4 separate regions of the Homo sapiens genome follow, and all the other regions are reported to be linked to region 1. The links are microRNA targets in miRTarBase. Many come from high-throughput screens and were not tested one by one. Region 1 holds a microRNA gene; each other region holds the end of a gene's coding sequence.

Region 1 (7,958 bases):
AGAGTGATACCTTATCTCTACAAAAATTTTAAAATTAGCTGGATATGGTTGTGTACACATGGCTGGTTGTGCACACACATAGCACCCAGCTATTTGGGTGGCTGAGGCAGGAGGACTGTGTGAGCCTAGGAGTTTGAGGCTGAAGTGAGCTATGATCATGCCACTGCACTCTAGCTTGGATGACAAAGCAAGACCTCATCTCTTAAACATAAATAAAATAGGGTCACTGCATATGTAATTAATTAAGATGAGATCATACTGGGGTAGGGTGGAGTAAGGTGAACCCTAAACCAATGAGACTGTGTCCTCATAAAAAAGGGAAATTTGGACACAGACAACACACAGGGTGAATGTCATGTGAAGACGAAAACAGAGATCAGGGTGATGCTTCTACAAGGTAAGAAATGACAAAGATTGCCAACAACTACAAGAAACCAGGCAAAAAGCATGGAACAGTTACACCTCAGCCCTCAGAGGGAATCAACATTGCCAACACCTCTATCTCAGACGTCTAGCCTTCAGGACTGTGAAACACTACAGTTCTGTTCTTTAAGCCACCCAGTTTGTGGTACTTAGTTATAGCAGTTTTACAAAAGAAAACACCATCCCTCAGTAAGGATTTCCTGTCTCTCCAGTTAACATCGGCTGTAAAAATGGCCTTGCCAAATCAATGCTTTACTGAGCCCAAGTATTGACAACCAATAATCTTGATCTTTTGGGGACTTACGCAACCCCAAAAAGATGTTTGTTAACCCAAATCAATTTTTCTTATCAATGGCCTCTGATCAGCTATGTAGAAAGATCCGTCAATAGTGATGCAACCTGCCTGAAAAAGGAGAGGAGACCCACGGCATGCCATGCTCACTGGTCCACAGAAACATACCGGGCTGGAGCGGCAAGGACATCCTGGCCCAGTGCACAGAATGTTTCTGGACCTGCAGTGTTTCTTGATAAGACTGTTTCTTTGCTGGGTACAATGGCTCACGCCTTTAATCCCAGCACTTTGGGAGGCCGAAGCTGGTGGATGATATGAGGTCAGGAGTTCGAGACAAGCCTGACCAACATGGGGAAACCCTGTCTCTGCTAAGTACAAAAAAAAAAAAAAATAATAAGATGGGCATGGTGGCATATCCCTGTAATCCCAGCTACTTGGAAGGCTGAGGCAGGGGAATCACTTGAACCTGGGAAGCGGAGGTTGCAGTGAGCCGAGATTGTGCCACTGCACTCCAGCCTGGGCAACACAGTGAAACTCCACTCAAAAAAAAAAAGGAATGTTTCTTGATCTTTTTGTAGTTCATGAGCGTGATGACTGAGTGTTCATGTGCATGTGTGAGGCGTGCCACCCTTAAACCTTGTTATAACATCAGCACATTACCCACATGACACGAAAAAAAATGTTTCTTATCCCTGACAGTTCTCCAAGAGGGCCTCCTTCAGGCATTGTCATTCCGTCCACAGTAACAACACAGCACCAGGAGAGGCCATTAGAGGGGCATAGGCAATGATCCTGTCTTCAGCCTTCAACACTTTGAGGTGTGTGCATTCTGAAGCCACAGTCATAGGGATTAACAAAGATAAACAAACTCATATTTCTAAGACTTGATATTTCTCAGAACTCTCAAAATTTCAGGCTTCTGCTAACTTCAATGTCTTCTTCTTGAATCAGAATCCTCCCTGAATCCAAATAGTAGCCTTAATGTTTCTGTCTCTACACATGAAATCCCCAAATTCTCACTTTAGCTTCTTCCACCCTAGTCTCTGCCTCCCATTCATGAGAAACAGGATGAGAGGGTGATGCCCAACTAATAGGCTTACTCTCTCATCTAAAGGGCATTTTGGTAAAAGGCTTTTTCTGTTGGGTCATATCTCCTCTGGCAGGAGCTATATCCCCCTGGCTTCCTATTTGGATTCTTCAGAATCTCGGCTTGAGCTCCGGCTGCCCTCCCTAGATGTACTAACTGCCTAGCTTGGGGCAAAATTCTCCTTTTGCACAGCACGTGCTTGCCTGATTCAGCTCAAAGCAGATCAGACTTTCTTAATAAGGCCACATTCTCTTCCCTCGTTGCCTTCTGCACTCCAGGCTTGAACCAAAACTTGGTTCCTTTATGAAGGACTTCACCGAAGGCCACAGGAAGCATCCAGCACAATCTTCTAACCCAGCACCAAAGCCTGAGCCTTGGCAGACACATGGTCCAAGTTCCAAAATATAAGTTACACTTTAAGTGAATCTGGTGAATGGGCTGGAGCCTTGGTCTGGTGGGGAGTGCTGGGGGGTGCTGGGGAGGAGAGGAAGGGACAGGGGTGTAGGGGGAAGCCCTTCTATCCGTCTTTTTTTAACAGTTACTTCTCTTCCTTTTTCTGTCTGGTTTCTCATAACTCCAACCAGCAGAGACAAGCCCAGGATGAAGACTGGGCAGTAGCCTGGGAAGAACCGGGCTTCGGTAACCACAGGGGCCCCAGGCGGCCCGGGAAGCGTGGAGGTCCCAGCGTGCGGGCAGAAAGCCCAAGAGGCCGAGCGCTGTGGCAGCTCCATGGGGCCCTGGCGGAGGCAAGGGCACAGCGTGGCTGGCTGCATATGTGAACAAGGTGAGCGGCGGGGCCGCGGTCGTCGCGGAGTCTGAGCACACCAAGGAGCGCATCAGACTTCAAGGGTCGAAGTGCAAAGGGGCAGTTTTTGATTTCGGGGTCAACCAACTAGGACTCGATGGGTGGAAAAGAAGTGCCTAAACAGCAAGCTGCTTACCTCAATCTCGGTCAGAATTTGTGGGGGCCCCATAGATGTGGGTGCCTGGCGGGGTCCTGGTGCGGACAGCGGTCTCGGGTTTGCGCACTGCGCACAGTATCCTCATCACGACACGATGGAAGCTGCGGAGCTGGGGTCAAAATAAGAAGGCGCAGCTGGGACCTGGTGACACCAAGAGAATGGAAGCCCCCAGACTCATTGCGGGTCTCTGCCGGGAAGTGAGTATGTAGGCAGCCTGTGGGCGGAACCTCACCTTGGCCTTGACGGAAACGGGCTCTGCGTTTGCCTTTGGGGAGAACAAGATGGGGCAGCTGAGCCTCAGCAACCACGCAGGAGCATCCCCAGCACCGCACAGATCATGGACAACGGGCAGCCAATTACTAGAATGGCCAGTGGAAATGAATTCCGTATAATGGGCGACAAAGGAGACCTCTGTTCCTTCGTGTGCCCTCAATGTGGTCAGCTGGGACCCAGGCACAGTGAATAGTTAAGGCTGTGAGCTGGTGCTGGTGCCACGATGAGTGGCCCACCTTCACTGAGAATGAAAGATGGGTAGATTCTGCCTGTACCAAAGGTGGTTGTGAGACCCCCAGAGCAAGGCAGGGACCCCTCCCCATTTCCCTTACATGCTGTGCTGACTGAAGCTACATTCAACCTTGCAGCCACACAACCACAAACGTTTCCTTTCACAAAATAGACCAATCAAATCTGAGACAGAGTATTCTGAGCACAAGCATCTTGGCTAACAGTGGGCACTTTGCAAAAGATGCTCCCCAATGCACTTGCCCAGTAATGTCCTAGCCTGTCCTAACCTGGCCTTTGCTTCATTTCAGTAGTAAAAAGCACACCCCTGGGTGGAGATTTAAGATGCTAATGAGACATGCATCACATGAAGAAGCATGTCCAGAGACTGCATAGGTGCAACTGCCAAACCACCCCAAACATGCAATGATGTCACATGGAGGAGCTCCAAAGCAAATGAAACCCCAAACTAACCTGCAGTCAGGGAGCTAGCTGCAGGTCTCTTCCTGCTGCTACCTCCCCTTCTGCTCAAGCTGAGAGCTCCAATAAACTGCCTTGCTCAAGCCCATCTCAGATTCTTGGTCTATTTCTATTTACTAAGGGTCAAGAACCCACCAGCCAATAACGGTTGTGTAAGACGTGACCTGTAATGCTAACCACACATTGATTCTGGACTCCAAGAAATGAGTCTTCTCCTGGGGCTTTGGTGGCTATGGTTGACTGGGCCACTCAGAGCAGAAGGATGAGATGGTCCCCGCTTGGTGAGGTTGGAGTCTGACTTCCTTGGGTGTGGGGCATCCCAGATCCATGTTGGTTACACCTGGTCCTTTGCTGTCTGTGAAGTTGGTAGTCTCTTTTTCTGGGGGAGCCCAATATCTCCCATGAATCTTCCATGTACCTGAAAGCAGTGCAGGACCTCTGCGGCTGCAGAATCCAGAGCCTGGCTTGTGGGAAGAGCAGCAACATTGTGGCCGCCAATGAGAACACCATCAGCTGAGGGCCATAACCAACCTTTAGGTAATTGGGATACAGGGACCATGAGCCCAAGTCTTCCACTGCAGCCCAAGAGGTGAAGACTCTGAATGGCATCTTTTCAAAGCAGGTCTCCATAGGCTACTCACACTCCTTGGTGATAGTGCGAGATGAAAGTGAGACCAGGAAAGAGAAGATCAAGAAACTGCTAGAGCCGGTTGCGGTGGCTCACTTGTAATCCCAACACTTTGGGAGGCCGAGGCAGGCGGATCATCTGAGGTCAGGGGTTCGAGACCAGCCTGGCTAACATGGTGAAACCCCGTTTCTACTAAAAATACAAACAAATAGCTGGGCATGGTGGCACATGCCTGTAATCCCAGCTAATCGGGAGGCTGAGGCAGGAGAATCGCTTGAACCCAGGAGGTGGAGGTTGCAGTGAGCCGAGATCACGCCATTGCACTCCAGTTTGGGCAACAAGAGTGAAACTCCAACTCAAAAAAAAGAAAAAAGAAAAGAAAGAAACTGCTAGAATACAACCCCTGAACCCTTTGATGCTCCTGGGGACTCCTGCAACTCCACCCGTCTCCCAGAAGCTGTCATTTCCTGTGCAGTGGGAGGTGAAGTCAAACAAGGAATTTTAAAAAGCAAAAGTTAGCCAAAGTTGCATTTTTGTTAGACTCCCTGAGGTTCCATTTTTACAAGGGATCCAATGTTAATTATCCTTTTCTGCATACTTTTAAAAGTCTGTTTTTTTCTCTTCATGTTTAATTAAAATATTTGCTCATATTTGGAAAAAATATGAATTGTTATAAAATAGTGGAAAAGATATCCAGACTCCCAGTGAGGACTGTGTTTCCCATTATGCTTCACCCAAATTAACTCAGTCAATTCTAACTTTCAGGAGTATTCACTTGTTATGCCCCACTTCCACATAGCGATTTTTCCATCAGGATGTTATTAGTTCCTAGTAATAGAAATGCAATTCAGACTAGTTTAAGCAGAAATAGTGAATTCACTTTGTCACAGAACTGGAAACAAAGAAGTGCAGGGGTAAAGTGGCTGTAAGCAGCTAGAACTAGGGCTCAAGCAGTGTGTTTACAACTTGTGACTGTTTTCACCCCGTTGGACTAGCTGTCTCCAGACAGCAGGCATGAAAGCAGGCAAGATAGCTCTCAGCAACACTCTCCTTCACTCAGATTAGGAACCCAGAAGAGAGTGAGAGTCTTTGGTAATAGCTCTGTCAAGGAAGTAATCCTGGGAAGAACTCTGACTGGCCAACATGCATCATGCTGGAACCAATGGTGATGGCCTGGGGCAGACTGAATGGAAGGGCCTGAGACATAAACTCATCCCTGTGCAGAGAAGAAGCAAGAGAGGAATGAGAGAGACAGTGGGAGGGGGATGGAAAGGCAAGAGGGTAGGAGCGAGTGGAACAAGAGCAGCACTAAGGAGAAAGGAATCATAAGGAACTACAATCCTGCCTCAATCACCAGAAATACGTTGCCCCAAGAAGCAGGCAAAATAAGAGATGTCTGCAACAGGGACTTTCAGGGCGTGGAGATAAATAAAATTTAAAAGCTATTGGAACCCCCCCCAGAACACATTAAGCCCTGAGTGAGATGTGACTATGATCTGAGTCACACATGGTTACAACTTCTGTTCTCAGATAGATTAACTCACTTTCTTATTTTTCTTGTTCTGCACAATGACTAGAGTGAATTCAACTACACCACAGATAAATGCCTCCTGCCTTCTTCATTAATGGCCCTGGTCATAGATTCACTTCCCCTTTGCTGCCTCACTTTGCTTAGACCAGATGACAAAAAACGCATGACTATTACACCCTCTGTGAAAAGTGTTAAATGTCCCCTTCCCAAAAGGAAACACTGCCTATAACCAATCAAATTGCTGTAACTATGCACCAACCTTGTGTAAATAGTGTTGTAATCCCACTAAAATCTCTGTCTCTGTCTAAATAAATGAAATCTTAACTTCCCTACTTCAAAATGCTGACTCCATTCCTTTGGAGTTGGTGTTTCTGGGTGGTCCGTCCTCACTGTTTGAGCTTGAATAAACTCTCTTTAAATTAGATTCTGAACCTTTTGATTATTTTAGGTTGACAGGAGTTTTGGAGTACTAGGTTTTAGCTTCCTGCTTCCCTCACTTCAGATTCCCAAAAAAATGATATAGTAGAAATCTCCATCAGCACTGAAAATTAAGAAGGTTGCTGCCTATCAGAGGGTGTAAATGAGAAGAAACTGTCAAAGTATAATTTTTTACAAATCAGGCCGGGCATGGTGGCTCACACCTGTAATCCCAGCACTTTGGGAGGCCAAGGCAGGCAGATCACCTGAGGTTGGGAGTTCGAGACCAGCCTGACCAACATGGAGAAACCCCGTTTCTACTAAAAATACAAAATTATCCAGGCGTGGAGGCGCATGCCTGTAATCCCAGCTACTCGGGAAGGCTGAGGCAGAAGAATTACTTGAACCTTGGAGGCAGAGGTTGTGGTGAGCTGAGATTGCGCCATTGCACTCTAACCTGGGCAACAAGCGCGAAGCTCCATCTCAAAAAAAAAAAAAATCAAAAATATGATTTTTATGTAAATACAAAATGAGTACATACCAGTGATTTAATTATCTCATTAATGATGGAAACAGAAAAACGGTAAGAGAAATACCAAGAGAATTGGAGAAAGTAAAATGTTTCAGCAGCTGAAAGAAAGGATGCTTGGATCAAATTGCTCATTTAGCTCCAAACCAGTTTAGCCTTCTGAAAGGCAATACAACTATATAACTTTTGAGTTTATCTTTTCTACCAGATTTAATAATTTATATCTCTACAATAAAAGATCCATTTGCATTGTTATTGGACAAGAATCATTTTCATCACTACCAGGTTTCTATTAGTTAATAACTACTCTTACAAAATTGTAAATTACCCTATTAAACAGTTCACTCAGCTGACCTGGGAAATCCAAACCCTGCACCTTCCAAAGAAAGGTCTGGCCATTAACCACTTATTGGGAGATAACCTCTAAGCCCTTGGAATGTCATTCCTGAGAAGAATGTCTTTGCTTATCTGGGGCTTTGGGCCACACTAGACAGTTTATGCTAACAATGTGATTTATGAAGGGGGGTGGGGAGGCAGGTGGCTACATGATGTCAGTTTGACTCCAAAGGGCTGGAGACTGAGTAACTAAGGTCAGCTATGTGGGCACTCCAAGCCTATATGACTGACCCCCAATAAAAACCCTGGATCTAGGGCCGGGCGTGGTGGCTCACACCTGTAATCCCAGCACTTTGGGAGGCCGAGGCGGGCGAATCACAAGGTCAGGAGATCGAGACCATCCGGGCTAACATGGTGAAACGCTGTCTCTACTAAAAATACAAAAACTTAGCCGGGCATGGTGGCGGGTGCTGGTGGTCCCAGCTACTCGGGAGGCTGAGGCAGGAGAATGGTATGAACCCGGGAGGCAGAGCTTGCAGTGAGCCGAGATCGTGCCACTGCTTCCAGCCTGGGTGACAGAGCGAGACTCCGTCTCAAAAACAAAAAAAAACAAAAAACGCTGGATCTCAACGTTTAGATAAGTTTCCCTGGTTGACAATACTACTTACGTGTTGTCACACATCACTGCTGGAAAAGTTAAGCACTATCTATACAACTCCACTGAGAGAGAACAAGTAGAAATTTGTGCCTGGTCTCTCTCTTGGACTCTGCC
Region 2 (7,800 bases), not on the chromosome of region 1:
ATAACTTGTTGTATCTGTAAGATTTTTTTGGTAAGCCTGATGGTAACCACAATGCAAAAATCTATAATAGATTCACTAAAAATAAAAAGCAATGCGTTAAAACATACTATCAGAGAAAATCACTTACCACAAAGGAAGACAGTAAGAAAGGAAGAGAGGAGTTACAAAACAACCAGAAAACAAGCAACAAAATGGCAGTAGTAAGTCCTTACCTATCAACAAAAACACTGAATGTAAATGGACTCAGTTCTCCAATTAAAAGACATAGAATGGCTAAATGGATAAAGAAATAAGACCTGACTATATGCTGCCTACAAGAAGATCATTTCACTTCTAACGTGAAGGGATGGAAAAAGATATTCTATGTAATTGGAAACCAAAAAAGAGCAGGAGTAAGTAGCTGATATAAGTAAGTACTTACATCAGATAAAACAGACTACAGATCAAAGACTGTAAAAAGAGACAAAGAAGATCACTAATGATAAAGGGAATAATTCAGCAGGAGGAAATATGTATCAATATCTATGTACTGAACAACAGAGCTCTCAAGTATATAATGCGAACATTAACAAATCTAAAGGGAGAGATAGACTGCAATACAATAATAGTAGGGGACTTCAACATGCTACTATATGTGATGGACAGGTCATCCAGACAGAAAATCAAGAAACACTGGAGTTAAACTACACACCAGATCAAATTAGGCCTGACACTTACAGAACATTTTACCCAACTGCTGCAGAATACACATTTTCTTCATCAGCACATGGAACATTCTCCAAAACAGACTGTATATTAGGCCACAAAACAAGTCTCAACAAATGCAAAAAAGTAGAAATCATATCAAGTATATTTTCTGATCACAATGGAATAAAACTAGAAATAACAAGGGGGGCCTTGGGAAATACACAAACACATGGAAATTAACACACTCCTGAATGACCTAGGGCCAATAAGGAAATTAAGAAAATTTTAAAAATTTCTGGAAACAAATGAAAATGGAAAATGACATATCAAAATGTGTAGAATACAACAAAAATAGTACTAAGAGGGAATTTTATAGCAATAAATGCCTGTAACAAAAAAGTAGAAAGACTTCAAATAAACAACCTAATGATGTACCTCAAAAAACTAGAAAAGAACAAACTAAACTCAAAATTAGAAGAAAAGATATAAAATTCAGAGCAGCAATAAATGGAGACTAAAAAATAAAGAAAATCAATGAAATGAAAAGGTTTTTTTTTTTTGGCAAAAACTAAATTGACAAACCTTTAGCTAGATTAACTAAGAGAGAAGACTCAAATAAATAAAATTGTAAATGAAACAGGAGACATAACAACTGATGCCACAGACATACAAAAAATCATTAGAAGCTGTTATGAACAACTACATGCCAACAAGTTGGAAAACCTAGAACAAATGGGCAAATTCCTGGACACATACAACCTACCAAGATTGAAACCATGAAGAAATAGAAAATTTCAACAAACCACTAATGAGTCATGAGATTGAAGCCATAATAAAATGTCTCCCATCAAAGAAAAGTCTAGGACCTGATTGCATTATTGCTGAATTCTACCAAACATTTAAAGAAGAATGATGACCAATTCCATTCAAATGCTTCATAAAAATTGAAGAGAAGGGAATATTTCCAAACTCATTCTATAAGGCTTGCATTACCCTGATACCAAACCAGACAAAGACACAACCAAAAAAGAGAACTATAGGCCAATATCACTGATGAACATAGATGCAAAAATCCTCAAAAAAATACTAGCAAATGGAATTCAACAACACATTAAAAAGATAATTCATCATGATCAAATAGGATTCATCCTAGGGATGCAAGGATGGTTCAACATACAAATCAATAAACACAATATATCGCATTAAGAGAACCAAGAACAAGAACGATATGATTATTTCAATAGATGCTGAAAAAGCATTCAATAAATTAAACATGCCTTTATAAGAAAAAAACCTTCAACAAACTAGGTATAGAAGAAACATACTTCAAAATAATAAAGGTCATTAGCTATGAAAAACTCCTAGCTAATATAATACTGATAGGGAAAAACTGAAACCCTTTTCTTTAAAATCCGGAACCAGACAAAGATGCCCACTTTCACCACTTTTATTTGACCTACTACTCGAAGTTTCAGGGCAATAAGGCAAGAGAAAGAAATAAAGGGCATCAAAGAAAGAAGTTTAAATTAGTCTTGTTTGCAGATGACATGATATTATACTTAGAAAAACCTAAAGACTCCACCAAACAACTGTTGGAACTGATAAGTGAATTCAGTAAAGTTGCAGCATTCAAAATCAACATACAAAAATCAATAGCATTTACATATCCCAAGAACAACAATCTGAAAAAGAAATCAAGAAATCAATTTCATTTATGGTAGCTACAAAGAATACAAAATACCTAGGAATCAATTTAACCAAAGATGTGAAAGATCTATCCAAAGACAACTATAAAACACTAATGAAAGAAACTGAAGAGGGCACCCCAAAATGGAAAGATATTTCACGCTCATGGACCCGATGACATTCTTCACAGAAATAGAAAAAATAATTCCAAAATTTACATGGAACCACAAAAGACCCCAAATAGCCAAAGCAATCCTGAGCAAAAAGAACAAAGCTATAGGAATCACACTACCTGACTTCAAAATATACTACAAAGCTATAGTAACCAAAACATCATGGTACTGGCATGCAAAGACATCAGACCAATGGAACAGAATAGAGAACCCAGACCCAGATATAAATCCATGCGTTTATAGCCAACTCATTTTTGACAAAGGCACCAAGAACATACAATGGGGAAAGGAGAGAGTCTCTTCAATAAATGATGCTGGGAAAACTGGATAGTTATATGCAAAAGAATAAAACTGAACCTCTATCTCTCACCATATACAAAAACCAAAGCAAATGGATTAAAGATTTAAATCTAAGACCTAAAACTATGAAACACTCCAGGACATTGGTCTGGGCAAAAATATTTTGTGTAAGAGCTCAAAAGCACAGGCAACCAAAGCAAAAACAGACAAATAGAATTACATCAAGCTAAAAACATTCTGTGCAGTAAAGGAAACAATCAACAAGTCAAGAGACAATCCATGGAATGGGAGAAGATACTTGTGAACTATCCATCTGACAAGGGGTTAATAACCAAAATATATAAAGAGTTCAAACAACTCAAAAGTAAAAAACAAACTGATTTTAAAATGGGCAAAAGATCTAAAGAGACATTTCTCAAAAAAAGACAGAGGGCCAAGAGGTATATGAAAAAAATGCTTAATATTACTAATCATCAAGAAATACAAATCAAAACCACAATATAATCTCACCCCAGTTAAAATGGATCTTATTAAAAAGACAGGGAATGTAAATGCTGGCAAGGACGTAGAGAAAGGAAACCCTTGCGCATTGTTGGTGGGAATGTAAATTAGTACAGCCACTATGGAGTATTGCATGGAGGTTCCTCAAAAAACTAAAAATAGAATTACCATCTGATCCAGCCATTCCACTACTGATTATATATCCATAATAGTCTGTTTTCACGCTGCTGATAAAGACATACCCATGACTGTGAACAAAAAGAGATTTAATTGGACTTACATTTCCACATGGCTGGGGAGGCCTCAGAATCAAGGTGGGAGGCAAAAGGCACTTCTTACATGGCAGTGGCAAGAGAGGAGGATGCAAAAGTGGAAACCCCTGATAAAACCATCAGATCTTGTGAGATTTATGCACTACCATGGGAACAGTATGAGGGAAACCACCTCCATGATTCAAATGATCTCCCACAGGGTCCCTCCCACAATACATGGGAATTATGGGAGTAAAATTCAAGATGAAATTTGGGTGGGGACACAGAGCCAAACCATATCAATATCCAAAACAAAAGACATATTGAAGATATATCTATACTCCCATATTTATTGCAGCGCTATTCACATAGCCAAAACATGAAATCAACCTAAGTGTCCATCAATGGGTGAATGAATAAAGAAAATGTGGTATATATACACAATGGAATATTATTCTGCCATAAAAAGGTTGAAATCATGTTATCTGCAGCAAGATGGATGGAACTGGAGGTGATGTTAAGTGAAATAAGCCAAACACAGAAAGACAAATATCACATGTTCTCATTCCTATGTAGGAGCTAAAAAAGTGGATCTCATGAAGATAGAGAGTAGATTGGTAGTTACCAGAGGCCAAGAAGGGTAGGGGGAAATGAAGAGAGGTTGATTAATGGGTACAAACATACAGTTTGATAAAAGAAACAAGACCTAGTGTTTGATAGGTCAGTAGAATGCCTATAGTTTACAATAATTTACTGTGTATTTCAAAATCACTAGAATAATTCAAATGTTTCTACCATAAAGACAAATATTTAATGTGACAGATATCCCAGTTACACAGATTTGCTCCTTATAATTACACAAATGTATTACATTATCACATGGACCCTCAAAATATGCACATCACTATGTATCAATCAAAAATTAAAATTAAAAAACCCTAAAACTGAAATTTTCTGCAGCTCAAAGTTCTAGAAGCATGTTAAAATACAGAACATGTGTAAGTCTTCCTAAGTTGCCTCAGAACCAGTGATTTCATTTATGTCGGAGGGTGTGTGTGCGGGTCTAGAATGCAATACAAAGCTGTTAGTGTGGCAGTGAATTCTCAGTTACTGGAGATCAACTTTAGAACACCCAGAGGCACCTAGCAAAGGTCTGTTTTCAGAAGAGTGTGTGTGGGGTGGGGGAGTAATGGGGGCACAGCTCTGAAGTGAAGATGCAACTTCCAACAAATGAATGCCAAAGTGTGAAAAGTTCTTGAGAATGATCTCCAGCCAACTCCTATTGGCTGGTGGACTCTATAAAAGGTCTACAAAAATATACCTTTTTAGGGTATCTGCTTACCACCTGAGTAAGTAAAAGTTGAGAGACATGAGCAAAGCAACCTAAGGATGCAAGAAGGGCCTTACAGGGAGGAGGGATGGGGATGGGAGCAGGCCTGAGAATGGCTGCAAGCTGACCAAGTGGAAGCTTTGAGCACCACACATCCCAGCAGCCTTGAGAAGCAGGTAGGCAAGTCTCCTCATACCAGCAAGGAGGCGCTCGTAGCATTAAGAACGTTGTCTGAGGAAGTTCCGGCTTCTCCAATAACCCCCTGAGGGATGTAGGGGTGGAGCTGTGTGGTGTAAGCCCAGCACCACCTGAGCCACAAGGGAGCTGTGGACCATCTTCCAGAGTCTCAATTTTCTAAACTCATTTGATGGGTGATAATCTTAAAACATTTTCTCTTAAACAAGCAGTAGCTTATAGAGTAGGAAATAAAATTCATACAAAATTATCTGTAAAGACACAAAACGAGAGAAATATGACTTTTGCTCTCCTGGCCACTCTGAGCTGGATCCCAGACCCCAGGAGACAGAAGGGACTCTGCTTTGAATGCTATGACCTGACTCCTGGCCCTGCATATGGTGAGGAGGAGGGAGATGGGAAGACGTTCGAATGGGCTGGGGCCAAGGCTGCACTGGGGCTGCACAAGCAGTTGCAGGAAGGGAAAGTGGAGGCAGGTAGCATTAGTGACAAGAGCAGCCACAGAGTGGAGAACAGCGATGGCGGCAGCCGAGTCTGGGGCAGGCTGGGAACAGAGTAGCAGATCTTCTGATATCAGAGGCTAGAGCCATTAAGAGACAGAAGCTAGGGGCAGCCTGTCTTTGGGGAGGAAGCCACCGACACCCAGCATCTCTTCAGAAGGGTTCACAGTTGTCTGGACTCAAGCAGCTTGCAGGACCAGGTGCCTTAATTCTCTGTCCCTCACTACTGGCATCCACAGAGAGGTCTCCGCCTAGCAGCAGCATCCAAGAAGGAGGTTTTGGGTAGATTCATAGACATAAGCACCCAAATTAACCAGACTACGAGAGTTCCTCAAAAGTTTTTATTCTTTTTCATCTTTTTAAACTGGCACACTGCCTGGTATACACCGCCAGGTAGGCATTCAGAAAAGTTTCTTTTTTTTAAATACACAATTTATAATACTGGGAAGATTTCATTTCAGTGTTTCCCAAAACATTATTCCTGGAAAGGGTGTACTCTCCCATGACTCTGGATAATAGAAGTTTTGTTCTGATTTTTTAAGTCACCTCAGACAGACACTGGAACACGTTAGATCTAACACTTAAGTGCTTTGAAAGGGCAGTAAAAAATCCCCAAGGAATTCAAGAATTGTAATAATTGCTGGGAAGACTGTGGTTTCTGTAGCCCAGGGTGGCTTCACAGTTGTCAGAGGTCACAGATTCTATGTCCCTCTCCGACCAGGGACCTCCAGGACAGCTTCCCTGGTTGGTTCTCGAGTCTTTCAGCAGAAGGCAGACCAACAGAGAAGGGTTGTGACCTTCTCCAACCAGCCCAGGCCTCACGCCGCTGCATCGCAGACCCAGTATCAGCAGCAGAGCTACGGAGCACGTCATCCTGGGAGTGGATCCTCCGTGGGTCACACCAAGCAGCGCAGCAGGGAACCAGAATGAGGTTCAGGGCCACCATCAAAAGAGTGACCTCCCCTCTCCTTCCAATTAGTTACCTGTATTCAATGTGCAGTGTAAACGAGCAGAAGTTTTACAAATTAAATTACTTTCTTAAAAATCAATACAACATCGTTACATACAATTCTCTTTGAGAAGTCTTTCCAATTCAATTCTTAAGTTTCATTTACAAAATGGTGTGCAAAAACAAACACTGACCTCAAATAAATAGGAAAAAAAAAGTGGGAAGAGCTAAAATTTTTTTTGTGTTTTTAAATTAAAAGTTAAAAACATGAGCTGCACTTCAAAGTATCTGCAGGATGGAGAAATACATCAAGAAGGCTGTCAAAAACAGCTCTCAGAGTTAGAGTTGCATTTTCAACTGAGGTTTTCTGTGTTCAAAATTCACGATCAATGCCTCCACTGAGATCTTTCACCACTCCCTCTTTGACCAGCTTTAAGAGGAACTTGGTTTCCGTTGTCACATTATGCATGGTCTGAAAGTTCATAGCAGCCATGCATTGACTGTCGAAGTAGTGCAAAGGTGTTCTGGGTTGATTGAGGTCATATCCAAAACCCGCCAAACTGACTTCATCGCACAGATGTGTGGCTAAGACAACGGCAATGACACCGATTGTGGGGACGTTCTGAGAAAGGGAAAAGAAGACCAAAAAGTAAAAAAAAATTTTGGCACAAGTCACCATTTTGCTGGTATTACACATGCTACGCAGAGTCATGAAAGCTACATTGGGGGCTGCAATTTCATACATCACATAATTTTATACATCATGAACTTTAGAGTCCAACTCTCCATTTAAGTCAGGAATCTAGGCTCTAAAACATGGTCTGTGATGTTCACACACTTTCAAGGGGCAGCCTGACAATTCTTACACCAAGTTAAAAGGTATTCCCCTTCTAGGCCAGGTGCGGTGGCTCACGCCTGTAATCCCAGCACTCTGGGAGGCCGAGGTGGGCGGATCACGAGGTCAAGAGTTTGAGACCAGCCTGGCCAATATGGTGAAACCCTGTCTCTACTAAAAATACAAAATTTAGCCAGGTGTGGTGGCACACGCCTGTAGTCCCAGCTACTCAGGAGGCTGAGGCAGGAGAATCACTTGAACCCAGGAGGCGGAGGCTGCAGTGAGCCGAGATCGAGCCACTGCACTCCACCCTGGCGACAGAGCAAGACTCTGTCTCAAAAAAAAAAAAAAAAAAAAAAAAGGCATTCCTTCTAAAATGTCTACCCCACTGGT
Region 3 (7,958 bases), not on the chromosome of region 1:
GCCAGAAGATATGGGGGCAGGAACACACTTTTCTCTAGACAAGCTGTTCGCTTACCAGCTGACTTTGGTAAAAAGAAAAAAAAAAATCTTAGTTCCATCTGTTCCCAGAGTGGAGCTGGTGTGAGTCCTGGGGCTTCCTGCAGCTCAGGCGGCCAGACCCAGTTTCAGACTCCAAGACAGCTGCCCTCTGGATTATTTTGGGAAGCAGCTCAACTCCGAGGCACCCCAGCCTTCGAGGCATTTCCCTTCGCTTCGAAGCTGTTTGCACACCCAGCCCAAGCTGCCAGCTCCTTCTCTGGCCCTGGACGCCTTCCTGTTCAGCTTGCTATAATTATCCTGCTTCCAACTTCGGCTGCAACTTCTACTGGAGTCAGATTTCTTGGGATGGAGGAAGAGAGAAAAAGAGCGAAGGCCATGGATAGTGAAATAAGGGGAGGAAAGGGCTCCCTGATCCTGCTTCGTCTCAGACTTCTTTGTGGGAACCACTTCTTCCACCCACCCCCAGGCACCCAGGGCCCCCAGGCATCCACCTTGTCCCACGGTGAACCCTCTTCCCCACTCTCTTCTCAAAGAATGTCCCCACTCCTTTTCTGAATGACAAGTTCCTGGGGCAGGTGGGATGAGGGCATCTTGGGCAGAGGGAACAGCATCAGAAAGACTTGGAAAGATCGCAGAGATGTCAGGGATATAACTGGAAGCAGTGTGGAAAGGTTGAGGCAGGGACGGAGACAGAACACAGTGAGCAGGAGGACCACAAAGCCAGCAGCACCAGAGCACCCAGAGTCCAGACGCTGCCCGGAGGTTGGGGCCTGGGAAGGTTAGAGCAGGATGGTAGTGAGACTGGGTTCCGAGGACAAAAGCACTCTGGCTGCTGGTGCAGAAGTGAAGTCACAAGAAAGAAGTCCCTTTCTTGCGAAAGGGAGGCCAGCTGGAAAGTTCCAGAGTGAAGATTAGGGAACGGGGCAAGCTCTGACTTGGATGTGGTGAGCTTGGGGTGGGCACCCCAGGCACAGCTATGCCCTGGGAAGTTCAAAATATAGATTAGGTCAGAAAGTAGAATAGTGGTTGTTAGGGGCTAGGGGCTAGGGGAGGAAGATGGGGGTAGTTATTGTTTAATGGATACAGAGTTTCAGTTTTGCAAGATGCAAAGAGTTTTGTGGTTGGAGGGTGGTGACAGTTGCACAATAATAGGAATGTACTTAATACTGCTGAATACACTTAAAAATAGTAAGATGGTACATTTTGTGTTATGTGTATTTTACCACACACAAAAAAAAAAAGAAAAGAAAAAAGAAAGAAATGTGGGTCTGGAGCTCAGGGCTAGAGCTGCAGTGGAGATTGGAGAGTGACCCTTAGGGAGGAGGGACAGGAATTTTAGAAGCAGAAGGCATCGCCAGGAAAGCTGTTTGGAGTGGGAAGGACCAATACTGAATCTATTTCTGTAGGTACACAAGCTCACTAACATATAACCAACACTACACAAAATGATAAAGAAAGTCTTTTAGGCAGGAAGAAAATGATACCAAATGGAAGAAGAAACGATGAGCACCAGGAGTAATAAGTATGTGGGTAAATATAAAAGACTTTCTTCTCAATTAAAAAAAAAAAACTCTTTAAAAGGCAATCGATGTGGCTGGACACTGTGACTCATGCCTGTAATCCTAGCATACTGGGAGGCCAAGGCAAGTGGATCACTTGAGGCCAGGAGCTGGAAACCAGCCTGGACAACATAAGGAGACCTCATCTCTACAAAAAAAAAAAAAAAAAAAATTCTAAAAAAGTTAGCCAAGTGTGGTGGTGCATGCCTGTAGCCCCAGCAACTGAGAAGGCTGAGGTGGGAGGATCAATTGAGCCCGGGAGGTCGAGGCTGCAGTGAGCACTGCAGTCTGGGTGACAGAGTGAGACCCTGTCTCAAAAGAAGACAATTGACATTTTTAAGCAAAAATAATATATTGTGAAATTTATTCTATAGAAATGAGACACATGACAACAATAGGACACAGAAGAGTAAAATGGAAGTAATATTACTTAAAGGTAGACTGTAATAAGTTAAGATGTTATAGTAGATTAAATGGTGACCAAAAGGATTTGTCCACATGCTAATCCCCAGAACCTGTGAATGTTAACTTCTTTGGGAAAAAGGTTTTTGCAGATACAATTAAATTAAGGATCTTGAGATTAGATAATCATGGAAAAAAGTTTTTGCAGATATAATTAAATTAAGGATCTTGAGATTACATAATCGTGGATTATCTAGGTGGGTCCTAAATCTCATGACAAGCGCCCTTATAAGAGAGACACAGAGGAGGGATAGACAGAGAAAGGAGAAAGAAGCAAAGTGACTGTGAAGGTAGATATTAAAGTGATGCATCCACAAGCCCAGAGATGCTGGTAGCCACCAGGAGCTTGAAGAGTCAAGATACAGCTTTCCCTCTAGAACCTCCAGAGGGAACGTGACCCTTCCAACACCTTAATTTCAGACATCTAGCCTCCAGAATTGTGGGAGAATAAATTTCTGCTGTTTTAAGCCAAGAAGTTTGTGGTAATTTGTTACAGCAATGACAGGATATGAATGCAGATGTGTATATAAAGTCTAGAGCAACCCCTAGGAAATGAAAATAACGAAATACAGTTGGTAAGCCAATAATGGAAATAAATTCACATCGCTAAAAAGTCTTCAATCCAAAAGGAATAAGAAAAACATATGAACAAGGCAAACAGCAAGATGGCATTAATAATTCCATTAAATGTAAATGGACTAGAGGTACCTAGAATAGTCAAATTCACAGAGACAGCAAGTAGAATAGTGGTTACCGTGGTCTGAGGGAGGGGAGAAATAGTGGTTACCATGGCCTGAGGGAGGGGAGAATGGAGAGTTAGTATTTCCTGGGTGCAGAGTCTCAGTTTGGGTCGATGAAAAAGTTCTGGAGATGGATGGAGGTGATGGTTGCACAACAGTATGAATGTACTTAATGCCACTGAATTGTACACTTAAAATGGCTAAAACGGTTAATTTTGTGCTATGTATATTTTGCCACAATAAAAAATGTAAGTGGACTAAACCCTCTAATTAAAAGGCAGAGGTTTCCAGATTGTACAAAAAGACACAATTATTTGTGTCTATAAGAAACCTACTTTAAACAGACGCAGTTTAAAAATATAGAAAAACATATACCATGCTAATACTAACAGAAAGTTTGAGTGGCTATATTAATATCAGACAAAGCAGATTTCAGAGTAAGAGATATTACAAGGGATAAATGAGACAAAAGGACATTATAATCTTATATGAGGTATGAAACAAAAATTGATAGAACTGAAAGGGGAAATAGTGAAATGTACAGTTACAGTTGAAGATTTTAACACTTCTGTCTTGGTAATTGACAGAAGTAGTAGAGAGAAAATTAGCAAGGATATAGAAGATCTGAACAACATAATCAACCCACTTGACCTAATTGACATTTATGAAACATTTTGTCCAACAACAGCAGAGCACACATTCTTTTTCAAGTGCATACAGAATATTTACCAAGATAGACCATAATCCAGTACATAAAACAAGTCATAATGCATTTTAAGTGATTTAAATCATACAAAGCATGTTCTCTGACCACAACAAAACCCAATGCCAAAAGATAGCTGGAAAAAAAATCCCAAAATATTTGGAAATTATACACTTCTAAATAACCCATGAGTGAAAGAGGAAGTCACATTTGAAACTAGAAGATATTTTGAACTTCATGAAGGTGAAAACACAACATATTAGTATCTGTGGGATGCAGCTAAAGCTGTGCTTAGAAAAAAAAATCCAGCATTAAATATTTATATAAAAGAAAAATATTCTCAAATCAGTGATCTTAGCTCCCCAATATTTTTAAGATGTCAGTTTTCCCCAGTTTGATCTAAAGAACACAATTCCAGTCAAAATTTCAGCAGGCTTTTTTGCAGAAAATGACAAACTGATTCTAAATTTTATGTAGAAACCAAAAGAATTAAAAAGACCTAGAAAAACCAAAATAATTTTTGAAATGAAGAACAAAATTGGAGGACTTATTTTTGAATGTACTAAGGACATGAGTTGTTGATACAAGAAACAATGGAGATACTCTCAATAGCATTATGCTAAGTGAAAGAAATCAGACACAAAAAGCAACATACCATAGGATACAGTTTATAAGAAATTCTAGACAAGTCTAAATGATGGTGACAGAAAACAGATCAGTGGTCCCCAGGGCCAGGGGCTGGGAGAAGGGAACTGGCTGCAGACAGATGCAGAAACTTGCATGGTGATGGGAATGTCCCATGTCTGGATAACGATGGTGGTGGTTATATGACTGCATGCATTTGTCAAAACTCATCAAATTGTACACTTCAAACTGGGAAGTTATTTTTCAATAAAGCTACAGTAATTAAATAAGTCACTTTTTTTTTAATTGCTGTCAAATAGAACAAGAGTGAGGACGTGGAACAGCCAGGCAGAGCCAGCCTGCAGCGGATGGGGCCCAAGCAAGTGAGGACTCAAAGGCCCCAGGAAGTGGGGCTGGATTTCAGGCTTTTGGGATGAAGCCAGCTGAGAGAGGCTGAGCCTGTGTCCCCAGAAGCTCCAGGAGAGGATTTGAGGTGCTGGAGGGGGCATCGCAATGGAGGGGGCACCTGAGCAGGTGGAAGGAGCTGGGCTCCAGGTACCTGGTGTGGGAGGATGCACGTTTCCCAGAGGCAGCCGGGAAGTAGGGTGGGTATCCATGAAGAGGGGTGCATCTGAGTGCTCACGTGGAACACGCTTATGGGCTTGGGTTTGCCCTGTGAATTGGGAGCTGAGAAGGGCAGGCAGATGGGAGGCTAGGTGAAGGGAAGACCCCTCAAGGCCTTCTCACACCCAGACACCAGCTCCCAGGGCTGACCTGGCACTGCGTCCCTGGCTCCCATCTTGCTCCCCCGAAGGACATCTGCCTAGGCGCCCCCAGTGGGTGTCAATGATGACCTAGCCCCTAACCCCCATCTAAAGCCCCTCCCCAAGGCCTCAGCTGTCAAACTGTGAAAACCCCAGACCCAGAGGCCTCTTCAGGGTCCAGGGAGGAGCAGCAGCCTGGGGCTGTGGTTGCCCTTCTCCCCAGCCTCACCCCTCCCCACAAGTCCCACTCCTCCCCACAAGTCCCACTCCTCCCCACCAGGCCCCAGCCCTCCCCACCAGCCTCACCCCTCCCCGCCAGCCTCACCCGTCCCCACAAACCCTCCCCTCCCCGCCAGCCTCACCCGCCCACTAGCCTCACTCCTCCCCACCAGTCCCACCCCTCCCCGCCAGCCTCACCCCTCCCCGCCAGCCTCACCCCTCCCCATCAGTCCCACCCCTCCCGGCCAGCCCCAGCCCTCCCCACCAATCTCACCCCTCCCCGCCAGCCTCCTCCCCGGTTCCCATCAGCCATCAGCTCTGCCCCACTCTGGATGCCCTGGACTGACTATGTGCAATTCTCCCACACGACTCTTCTTTATGTGCAGAAAATGCCAAGTCTCACTGGAGCGAGTGGGAACCCACAGCTCCCGAGGACAGACTGGAGATGACCTGAACCCACTAATCAACCACGAAGATTGCTTCTTTGTGACTTTTGGGCAAAACTCACGAGGGCAGCTGCAGGACACAGCCCGGGTTGCTTTGACAGTCACTGAATCCACTTCTCCCGGTGGGTGGGGGCATGGCTATGGAGCCATTCGGGCTCCTGCCCTGGAGGGTGACTCTGGGGCCCATCCTCCCGAGTGAGAAGCAGGTGGGTGTGGGGAGCTGGGCTGGAAAAGGTGGGGTCTGGGGCTGTGGGCCCTGTCCCTGAGAGTCCCCAGCCCTGAGTGATGCCACCTCTCTGGGCGGTCACTAGCCTGGGCCCAGAGATGAGAGACTGATGTGACACACACTCACCCCATGGGAGGGAGGCTGCAGGTTTAAGGGCCCTCCTCAGGACCCTGTCAAGTTCCCAGAATCCCTCCCAGAAATACTTTTATTAAAATAAACTGAGCAAGGCCAGGCGGCTCAAAATGATCCACACAAGGGGGTTCAAAGATAATCCAACGATGGAGACAGGAGACAGGGTGGGAGGGAAGCGGGTCACGAATGCACAGGAAACAGCGGGACTGTGGGAGGACACCCTGCAGCCTCGGGCCCTCCAGCTGGGCTGACAGGCAGGCTCTGGGCTTTGGAGGCAGTGAGGGTCAATTCGGGGCTCCATGGGGCGTCCTGTCCCTGTGTGCCTTCTGCGTGTGCTTGCAGAACAGACCATAGAGCACCCTCAGTGTGCTCTTGGCATCCTTGTTCACGATATCTGCGGGCCAAAGGAGGGCAGGGCAGCCAGTCAGGCCTGGGTGGCAGTGACCGACTGTCCCGATGTGGTCAAGGTTTCCTGGCATTCAGGATTTCAGTGCTAATCCCAGGAGAATCCCTGGAAGCCAGGACAGCTGGTCACTCCAGGCCTGGGTCCCGCGCCTGCTGCGTGACTGCCTCCTCCTCCTGGCCAGTCCTCCTCTGAATGCTCCTGTGGTGCCCCCAACACAGCAACTCCTCAAGGTCTGGCTTCTCTGGACAACCTGTCCCCAGAGACCTTGGTCTCCCCCTCCCCAGAACCTCTTCCCCTGGGGCTGCAGTGCCCCCTCCCAAGAAACCTTGGCAAGCGCCCATTCTCCACCCCTGCCAGGCAAGAGGACTCTGCCAATGCGTGCTCATCCCCCAATGCCCTGCACCCTGTTCTGTGGCTCTCGCACAAGGCTGCCACCCAGGGCTGGCCACCGTGTGGGCATCTGCCTTGCACTCACCTTCAGGGCTGACAGGGCAGCTGAGCAGGCCCTCGTCCTTCAGCAGCTCCAGCGCCAGGGTGACGTTGTGCAGCTATGATGACAAGGCCCTATCAGATGTGGGCACAAGCAGCAGCCCCAGGCCAGGCCTTGGGTCCCAAGTGCCAAGCCCTTCCTGTTGTCTGTGATGTCCATCATGAGCCTAAACTCCCATCCAAGGTGGGCATCCCTGACCACGACCACAATCCGTGGTCATCCAGCATCTCCCTACAGCTCACTCTGTCACACAAGCAATCCATGTCTCATTCCTCAGCCACTCACAGGCCCCACTCTGAGCAGGTGCTATACCACACTGGGCACACGCTTGCGTCCAGGGGCCACTGCCCGTGAAAAAGGCAATCGCCAAGGAGGATACCCAATAGGGATCAGGGAAGGCTTCCTGGTGGAGGTGAAGCCTGGTGGTGAGTCCCGCCAGGCAGGGAGAACTACCCAGGGAAAGGAGCAAGGGCCTGGGGTGGCAGAGCACCTTTGAGAACAGCTGTTTCCCAGGGCAAAGCACAGTGAGGAAATCAAGGCTCAGAGGAGCCAAGGGGCTCACTGGAGCTCACGAGACAGAAAGCGCTCAAACCAGGTCTGTCCGCTCCAATGCTCATGCAAAGCAGGCTAGAGACTGGAGCGGTCCCCACCCAGGTGGCTGTCCTTTCCGCCACCCCTTGCCTGGGGTGCAGTCTCAGAGATGGCTCCCTTTAGGGTGGAGAGCGCCCGGGCATCAGTCAAGTCCCCCAGTGATTCAGAGCTCAGCTTAGTCCCTGCCCAGGGCCTCCCCTTGCTCCCCTGCAAAGTGGGCTCACCACAGTTCCCCTGTGCCTTGCTACAGGATATGGTGAGAGCCCAGGAGCCTGCCGGCCCTCCCACAGTAGGTCCCCTCCCTTTCCATTCTAGCTTCTCCCTTGGGCCTCGTCTACAAGCAGAGTAGGTCCCAGCCCTTTGCCTTAGGGCAGCAGCCTGGTGTGGGTGAAGAGGGATGAACTCCTGGTTCACTGTGACCTCAAACAGGTCCTCCCTTCAATGTCTTAGCCACCCGTAGATCCACTAGACGGGGTGGACATCCCAGCCCGGGGGTCAGCTGTGCTGGTCCCGTTCCCTCCCTATCTGCCTGGCCACACCAGCCCCACCAGGACAGG
Region 4 (7,950 bases), not on the chromosome of region 1:
AAAATCAGTGTGCAGATGAGTGAATTTAAAAAATGTAAAAAAAAAAATACAGAAAAGAAACTACCATGTAGCCATCTAGGCACTCTTATAAATGACTGAAGATCTGGACTTTGGGACCAGGTGTGAGCCACAGTGGGCATTTATTAATGGCAAATGAGAAAAAGCAAGTTTATTACTCCAGGTGCTATGATAGAAGCAGTTTATCTTACTCCACAAATGAAAAGTGGTTTCTCACACAAAGCTGTCAGCAACCAGTGTAAGGTGCTCTCTTTGTCAAGAGAGTTTCCTTTTTTCATCCATAGCCCTAAAATCCACCACAAATTGTGGATGTCCTTAGGACTATTAAGATCTACCATATTTACATAGGGCAGAAGATAAGATTATTGGACTGACTACTAGTCCTCTACGGGACAACAAGACGACTCTTCCTCATTGAAGCTACCTGTGCACCGGAGAAGCCCATAAGGCACAAAGGGAGGACTTTCCCACAAGGTCAGTTAGAGCCCACTGTCCTGGCACAGTTCTCACAAGTGGACAGACAGACATGAAGCAAGTCTTGCGCTTAACTACTTGGACATTGCTTTGTGTATTATGCAAGTGTTACGGACTAAATATGCTCTTTTACATAAGATCTTCAGTTCTCTGAGTGGGTGCCCCTCCCATACCATGTTTTGTTTTTCATTACCATCTCTTTCCTAGATATTTGGTGTTACGTCTTCATAACTGTGCAGAAACTATGTAGAGGGTTCTGTTTCTCTTAAAATGTCTTTTTGTCTAATTAACTACTCTGCCAGACCAGCTATTCTTAGTAAGGGGAAAAGTAATTTTTCCAGAAAGTTTCTAGTTGGCTTTAACATTTTCTGTAGAAATTTTTTGTTGGGGGAATACTTGGAACTGAAAAGGCTAGACTATGCTTGCTCTGGTGTACTACTTTTACCTCTAGTCTGAGGTCTTACCCATCCAAAGAATAGTAGAGGAAAAAGTTGTTTACCTTTTTCATTCTTCATTTGCAGCTGAGTTGAATTTTAATTTCTCTTTTTGGAAAAACAACTCTCAGATGGCATATATATTACTTTTCTTAGCAAAGCACAAAAGTTCAGTTGCTTAGATTGGGATTTAAGATCCATTTTCTTTGATTAGGCTTATCCTTCTTGGATATTCAAATATATATAAAAATAATGTTTTGCATTGAAAAATATGTAGTTGTAGTTTTTAAAACATGCCTGTTATAAACATTCAACTTTTTTTCACCTTTTGGGGTCTCCATTTTTACCCTTCTAACTTAATAATTGAACCTCATGTGAACATAGTTTTGTATGCTGTCTTTTATACCTTTCCCAGTGCTTTTTGATGTTTTTTACCCACAATGAAATTTACTTAAATATTATATTCTGCAATGTGCTTAATAGCTTCTCACCAATTGAGAGAATTTACCCACTATTTTACCTTTTGCTTCCTTGAATTCCCCTTCCTGCCTTCTCTCTCATATATTACAAATTTTATCCCTTTGGTAAATTCACCAAACCGTTGCTTGCAGTCTGTGGGAAATGATTGTCTCTCATCTCTCAGTTGTTTCACTTTTTTTCAAAATCATGTCTTTATTGTATTTTACTTTAAAATCCATGGTCAATGTCTTCTTTTATGGCAGAAAAGAGGGGATCTGATGATAAAAAAAGTAGTGTGAAGTCCGGTAGTCGAGAAAAGCAGAGTGAAGACACAAACACTGAATCGAAGGAAAGTGATACTAAGAATGAGGTCAATGGGACCAGTGAAGACATTAAATCTGAAGGTGACACTCAGTCCAATTAAAACTGATCTGATAAGACCTCAGATCAGACAGAGGTAAGTGTATTGTTTCTCACTTTGATTAGGGCTTTTTGTTACTGTTTGACAGTGCAGCGTAAGTATGCACAGATGAAGATGGAACTAAGCCGAGTAAGAAGACATACAAAAGCCTCTTCTGAAGGAAAAGACAGTGTAGTCCTGCAAAACATTTTGAGGTACATTGTTTTGTCTCAGCTATTTTGTAGCAGACTCGTGCCCCCATTAGTGTGCCTCTTTGGAAATTATCGCCCACATTTGTAATATAGTCGCCATTGAAAAGTTAATTATCCTTTTTTTAGGGATTTTGATGTCATTTCTTTTTTTTTTTTAATAAAAAGGTTGAACTGTTTTTTTTTTTCTTTTTGGTATTAAGTCCATCTTGTGTTGGTACATTGGCAGAGACATATGCTTTAAAAACTTAAATATTTCGGAGGCACATGTTGGACTACTTTGTTTTAATTAAACTGCTAGTATTTCTTTGTCAAGGATGTTTCTAGTTTTTTGCTTTATTGCCTTGCATTCTAATGCAGTTTGTTCTGTAACTCGAGAGCCAGTAGCATTGGATTGATGGAAGTGTAGGGTTTATGAATTATTGCAGCTGACTACCATACCTCACACAGCGTTGGTGTTGTGAGCGGCCCATGAAAAGCCAAATTAAAAATCAAGGATTCAGTCAAACTAAGCAGGTACTCATGCCAGGTACTCCTTTCTCTACCCACATCCATGTTTGAATGCTATTGCCTGTGATCTTTACGCTTAACTGTTGTGTATCTTTTTTGTTCTTTACAAGAAGTGCAGAGGGGTTTTTTGTGTATTGCGTGAAAACTTATAAAACAAATGTTAACAGAATGGAATTTTTTTTCAACTGTATGTAGGGCTGCAGTGGTGGCCAGAATTAGATATCTTTAAAGAATTTTAAATACAATAAACACTTCATATTATTCGCCTTGTTACACTCAATGCAATTCTCAAGTCTATAAGAGGTATGTGCTTAATATTTCCTACTGTGTAGGAGAATTTGCAGTCAGCCATAGGTATGTAGGAATAGTCACTCACTGGCTGATACATTTAAAGCAGCAGTGTGAATAGCAAGGACAGACACCTTCAATTTGTGAAATCAAAGAACTGATGCACTATATAGAACGAATTTGGGTTTTTAAAGAAATATTAAAAGTTAGGTACTGTAAGTGTTCTTAAAACCTGTAAACTTCATTCTGTGGGCTAGTGGTGTGGGACAAAATATTCCTAATGAAAGGAAGTACCAATTAGTTGATTTGTTGGTGGCATTCCCCTTTTGGGAAAGCAATGTAAGGTTATGTCTGTGTATGTCATTCACACTTAGGCAAGCATACACAGGCACATGGCTTTAAGAACCACACTGATGCCTTGATAATTAAAAAGAATACAAGCATTCCATGTACACATGTTAATTAGCAGTTAGTGACTGGGCCAACACTTTCTCATAAAAATTGGCCTTTTACATGTTGTCTAATTATCATTTTTCCCCAAATTTTGCGTTGTAGGACTACTGTTCGAAGATTTTTGGAAGAATACTGAGAACGGCATAAAGTGAAGATCGACATTTAAAAAATGAGGTGAAAGAAAGCTATAGTGGCATAGAAAAAGTATAAAGCTCAGTTAGTTTTTTTATTATTATTATTATTAAAAGTTAATTCAGGACTGATGTGACCTACCAGATTTCAGAACATGTGTTAATAGTATATATGCCACTGAAAACTTAGGTCCTGTATCATACTTTTTTCTTTAAGACTTTTTAAGAAATATTACTTAAACATGTGGCTTGCTCAGTGTTTAATTGCAAGTTTTCAATCTTGGACTTTGAAAACAGGATTAAACGTTAGTATTCGTGTGAATCAGACTAAGTGGGATTTCATTTTTACAACTCTGCTCTACTTAGCCTTTGGATTTAGAAGTAAAAATAAAGTATCTCTGACTTTCTGTTACAAAGTTGATTGTCTCTGTCATTGAAAAGTTTTAGTATTAATCTTTTTCTAATAAAGTTATTGACTCTGAACTAGTCCCCTGTTTTAAATACAAGAGTTACACTATTACTAGAGGTGTTGGTGTACAGTTTTATCTGATTTGTTCTGTTTAAGACTAATTTTTATAGACTTTCTAATGTTTTAAATAATGGTGCTTCAATTTTAGGTGGTTATGAATAAATTTGAATTTTGCTTTTAATAGCAAAGATGTGCAGTGAACTAGAATATATTTTTACATCCCTGAGAGATTCATTTAGTAGAAAATTCCAAGTATCCTGACAAGCACTCTTTAGCTGGCTAGCTATGGGATGATGTAGAAAAGCATTCAAGAGCTAGTTTTTGTTAAGTCCTGTATCAAGATTAACCCAGCTGTGTCAGTTTATAAATGTATTTGTGTATAGGGTGTGTAGTATATATGGCAAGGGTTTTTTCCCCCCACTTAAGTGATTATTTTTGTGTCACATCTAGGAAAACCGGCAGCATGTTTCTATCTATAGCCAGCTTCTTCGACTGTATAAAAGTATTCTCTCCAGCTACGTATATACACACATACATATATATCATAGCAATTCCTTGTGGTTTATAACTTGCAAATACTGCTATCAGTTTATAGGTAAAGAAACAGTGTGTTAAATGACTTATCCAGGGAGGGTCCTGTGGCTTCATGTTTATGGAGTTGCTAGGTCTCTGCCTCATGGTCCAGTGCCTGTTAAGCCACTGTGTTCATTCTAATAGGCATAATGAATTGTTAAAGAATTTACTAAAATCTCTTCCACCAAACTTTGAAAAATAATGAAGCCGCCCCCACTTTAGAGGCTCTGTATGAAAAAATGCTGTGGAGACAGAGCCCTCCTGGCTCCCTAGCTGATCCTGGAGATGCAGCAATAGATGAATGGGTTATCTCTGAATTTGTAAGAGATAATTCACATGAGGATTAAGATAAAATGGGAAGTAAAATCTAACAAACACAAAGATAGCTCCCAGGCACTGCTTTGTGTAGTTTGACAGCATTGTGGTTGTAGCAGCAAAGGACTTAAAGTGATAGTTTTTAAACCATATTCTGTCCCTAAGTAATAAAAAATCTAGGAAGTTACTAAAATACCAGATTTGTTCTGCTCTGCCTCATCTAGAATCAACGTCTAACTAACTTAAATGAAGTATAATAAATGAGTTCATATGAAAAGGCTTCCTCTATGGACACTTAGATATATTGTAACTATTGAAGTTACCTGGGATGTGGGGGTGGTGGGAGGAGGACCTGCCTCCCCAGGACATCTATGACTAAGGCCTGGCTTTAGTTATGGAGAGAGACGTAGAAGTTGAATTTTACACCCAAAATTGATGTGACTGAAGAGGAACTGATTGTTGCTAACCAGCTCACAAGAATCCAGTATTGAGACCAGTTCACTAGAAGAAACAAACATTTCTGCCATGCAGACCAAAAAGTTATTAGTTGGTGAATATGTATTTTCTCTTTGGAAGGTCTTTAAGGGGAGCAAACCAGTTTTAATCAATCAGATTGCTTGGTAAGTTTGGAATCTGCAATCAGTTGGTCTTAAAAAAAAAAAAACTTTATTTTGGAAATTTAAAGACATACACAAAAGAGGAACAATATAATTAACCTCTGTTAACTCATCACCAACAAGACTCATGACCACTTTTATACTTCATGAGTGATTGTATTTGTATCCACTGTTTTCTATTATTTTCGAGCAAGTCTCAGACACACCATTTAATCTGTAAATAATTCAGCATGTATCTCTAAAAGACAAAGACCTCTTAAATAACAGTTCATTAGTATAAAACAAATTGGGTAAACTTTTGTTGGTCATCAAACTATATTAGCACTGGTCCAATAGTTTAATTTTCATTGAGCCTTTCAAGAGGACCGACCAGTCTGCTGCTCAAGACATCCTCTCCTCTGGAATGTAGAGATAATACATATCATGCTCCTTTTTGTTAAAACGTTTTTTTTTCCCCTTCAAACACAGTCCATTCATTTTTCAGTTTGGGTTGAAACATCCTTTTCTTGATCTTGAGCTTATAATAACCTAGTCATATTGCTCAGCTCAGATATTTTTACTCCCTCTCCTTAGGCATTCTGGTTCCTTAAATATAGTTAGTGTCACAGAGGATAAATAACCAACCTTATTTCTAAGGTCTGAGAACACTTGGACCACATATTGGTTGAGCTCAGCCACCTTCTGATTAAAGTTTTCAGACTTGTAAGAACTGAAAATTTTTATGGTGGAAGTTCTCTGAGCCCTCATCCATTCTGTTTTTAAAAATGCATTGCAGATGGGCTATGTGAATATGTTTTTAAACATCTGATATGTGCATGAAACAAAAAACACTTGAAGTTATTATGTATACAATTCTGTGGGATGGGACTTCATGCAGGATTGGTTTTCAAGTTTGATTTCCTGAGGGATTTTTTAGTTGTTTGTGAAAGAACCCCAGGTCTACTTTTGAAATTTTGTATTATAATTGTAATGTTGCCCATGGTTAAAAAAAAAAAGTGTTCAGTGATCTATGTCTCCTACTACTCCTATTTCTCTGTTTTTCCTCTGCAGGAGCTTGCTGCTGTTAACAGTTATTCTTCCAAGTTGTTTTCTTTGTGGGGAGATGGGAGGTGGGAGGAAATATAAACATATATGTATAGATCTTTCAAAATATATGACGGTATACCCGTATGTTCTGAGTCTTGCTGTTTTTACCTGGTAATATTTAGAAACATTTATTTTGAGATAAAGGAGAGCACTTTTAAGTTGAACCTGTAGTTTTAAAAAGTACATTTCAAGTAAGCCAAAGCAGAGAAGTAAATGTATTTTTCATTGTTGTATCAGAATTTTGAATTTACTATTTTAAAAATTCAAGAGTTTTGTAGCTGATCTATTTCTTCCCCTCAGCCATCCCAAATAGGTCATTTGTCAACAGATTTAAGAATGTTTAGAAACAACAACTTTGGGAAACGGGAAACAATTTGGTATAAGTGGGTGTGCCATAACCTCTCTCGTAGCCATTCATTCCCGGATACATACCCTAGAGAAACTCTTACACATGCGTACCAGGGGATGGATTTAAGCATTTGTGTGTAATAGGAAGAAAAGAAGAAAAAACCCGGGAAGATCCCAAGTGTCCACCAACAGTGTGTTGGATAAATACTGTGGTATATTCCAACAGTGGAATTCCACAGAAGTGAAACTGAACTGCAGCTGTGTATGTGAACATGGACAAAACTCAACAATAGAAGGATCAAAAAAAGCAAGTCACAGAAGAATACATCACTATGGTTCCATTTCAATGAAAGTCAAAAACAGGCTGTCAAATACATGATAAAAGGAAACGATTAAGACAAAATTTAATGTTAGCCGTTTTGATGGAGGGAGAGGTGATCATGAGGGCACAGGGGTCTTCAGAAGAACTGGTGAGGGTCTGTTTCTGAAGCCTGTGGGCATTTCCTTTTTTAATCTGTATGTTTATGTGCTTTTGTATGTATGATATTTCTTAATAAAATTTAAAAAGAAGAATGGGAAAAAAGTCTTGGTGTAGGTAGTTACTAATATATAAGCTGTAGTGTATTTCGTAAAATTAACCATCAGTCAGTGACAAATTTAAAGATGCTGTTTCTTGAGTGCCCAATTTAAGGTTTTATTTTGTTTGAGACAGGGTCTCTGTCTTGTCACCCAGGCTGGAGTGCAGTGGCACGAGCTCAGCTCACTGCATCTTTCGCCTCCTGGGTTCAAGCCATTCTCGTGCCTCAGCCTCCCAAGTAGCTGGGATTACAGCTTCGCACCACCACACCTGGCTCATTTTTTTGTATTTTTAGTAGAGTGTTTCACCATGTTGTCCAGGCTGGTCTCAAAACTCCTGACCTCAAATGATCAGGCCCACCCTGGCCTCCCAAAGTGCTGGGATTACAGGTATGAGCCACCGCGCCCAGTCTTCAAATTGAGGTCTTAATTGTAACTCTTAAAAAGCTAGAAACGGCGACAAGAGCAAGACTCCGTCTCAAAAAAAAAAAAAAAAAAAAAAAAAAAGAAACCTAAATGTATGTTTTCTGTGTGATACCTTATTTTCATCTTAACATAGTTTCTACTTGTCTGCCAGCCAGGGAGCTGAT

What was found. Region 1 holds the annotated microRNA hsa-miR-4468 (AGAGCAGAAGGAUGAGAU, at 3,997-4,014, shown strand). A microRNA usually pairs through its seed, bases 2 to 8, with sites in the 3' UTR of a target mRNA and lowers its output. Matches are read on the target gene's strand: a 7mer-m8 pairs with bases 2 to 8, a 7mer-A1 pairs with bases 2 to 7 and ends in A, and an 8mer does both.
Region 2: the mRNA of ST3GAL5 is a reported target of hsa-miR-4468. Seed matches in the 3' UTR shown: 7mer-m8 at 6,631-6,637.
Region 3: miRTarBase lists PARVG as a target of hsa-miR-4468. Seed matches in the 3' UTR shown: 7mer-A1 at 4,655-4,661.
Region 4: the mRNA of LUC7L3 is a reported target of hsa-miR-4468. Seed matches in the 3' UTR shown: 7mer-m8 at 3,729-3,735, 7mer-m8 at 4,939-4,945 and 7mer-A1 at 5,728-5,734.

The regions. Positions count from the first base shown.
Region 1 is chr7:138,119,807-138,127,764 of GRCh38, forward strand. It overlaps MIR4468 (microRNA 4468), which reads left to right and starts at 3,952; the gene lies at 3,952-4,015. It overlaps LOC124901828 (small nucleolar RNA U13), which reads left to right and starts at 1,282; the gene lies at 1,282-1,385. It also overlaps the pseudogene RCC2P3.
Region 2 is chr2:85,833,199-85,840,998 of GRCh38, forward strand. ST3GAL5 (ST3 beta-galactoside alpha-2,3-sialyltransferase 5) reads right to left here. Exons shown (of 7, transcript NM_003896.4): 7 at 3,922-7,194. The coding sequence ends at 6,946. Among named protein-coding and RNA genes, the nearest start is that of ST3GAL5, 52 kb to the right of the region's middle.
Region 3 is chr22:44,204,667-44,212,624 of GRCh38, reverse strand. It overlaps PARVG (parvin gamma), which reads right to left. Exons shown (of 14, transcript NM_022141.7): 13 at 6,796-6,868; 14 at 4,156-6,308. The coding sequence ends at 6,199. Among named protein-coding and RNA genes, the nearest start is that of PARVG, 28 kb to the right of the region's middle. RefSeq lists an enhancer at 7,486-7,958.
Region 4 is chr17:50,748,853-50,756,802 of GRCh38, forward strand. It overlaps LUC7L3 (LUC7 like 3 pre-mRNA splicing factor), which reads left to right. Exons shown (of 10, transcript NM_016424.5): 10 at 1,649-7,367. The coding sequence ends at 1,809. Among named protein-coding and RNA genes, the nearest start is that of ANKRD40CL, 15 kb to the right of the region's middle.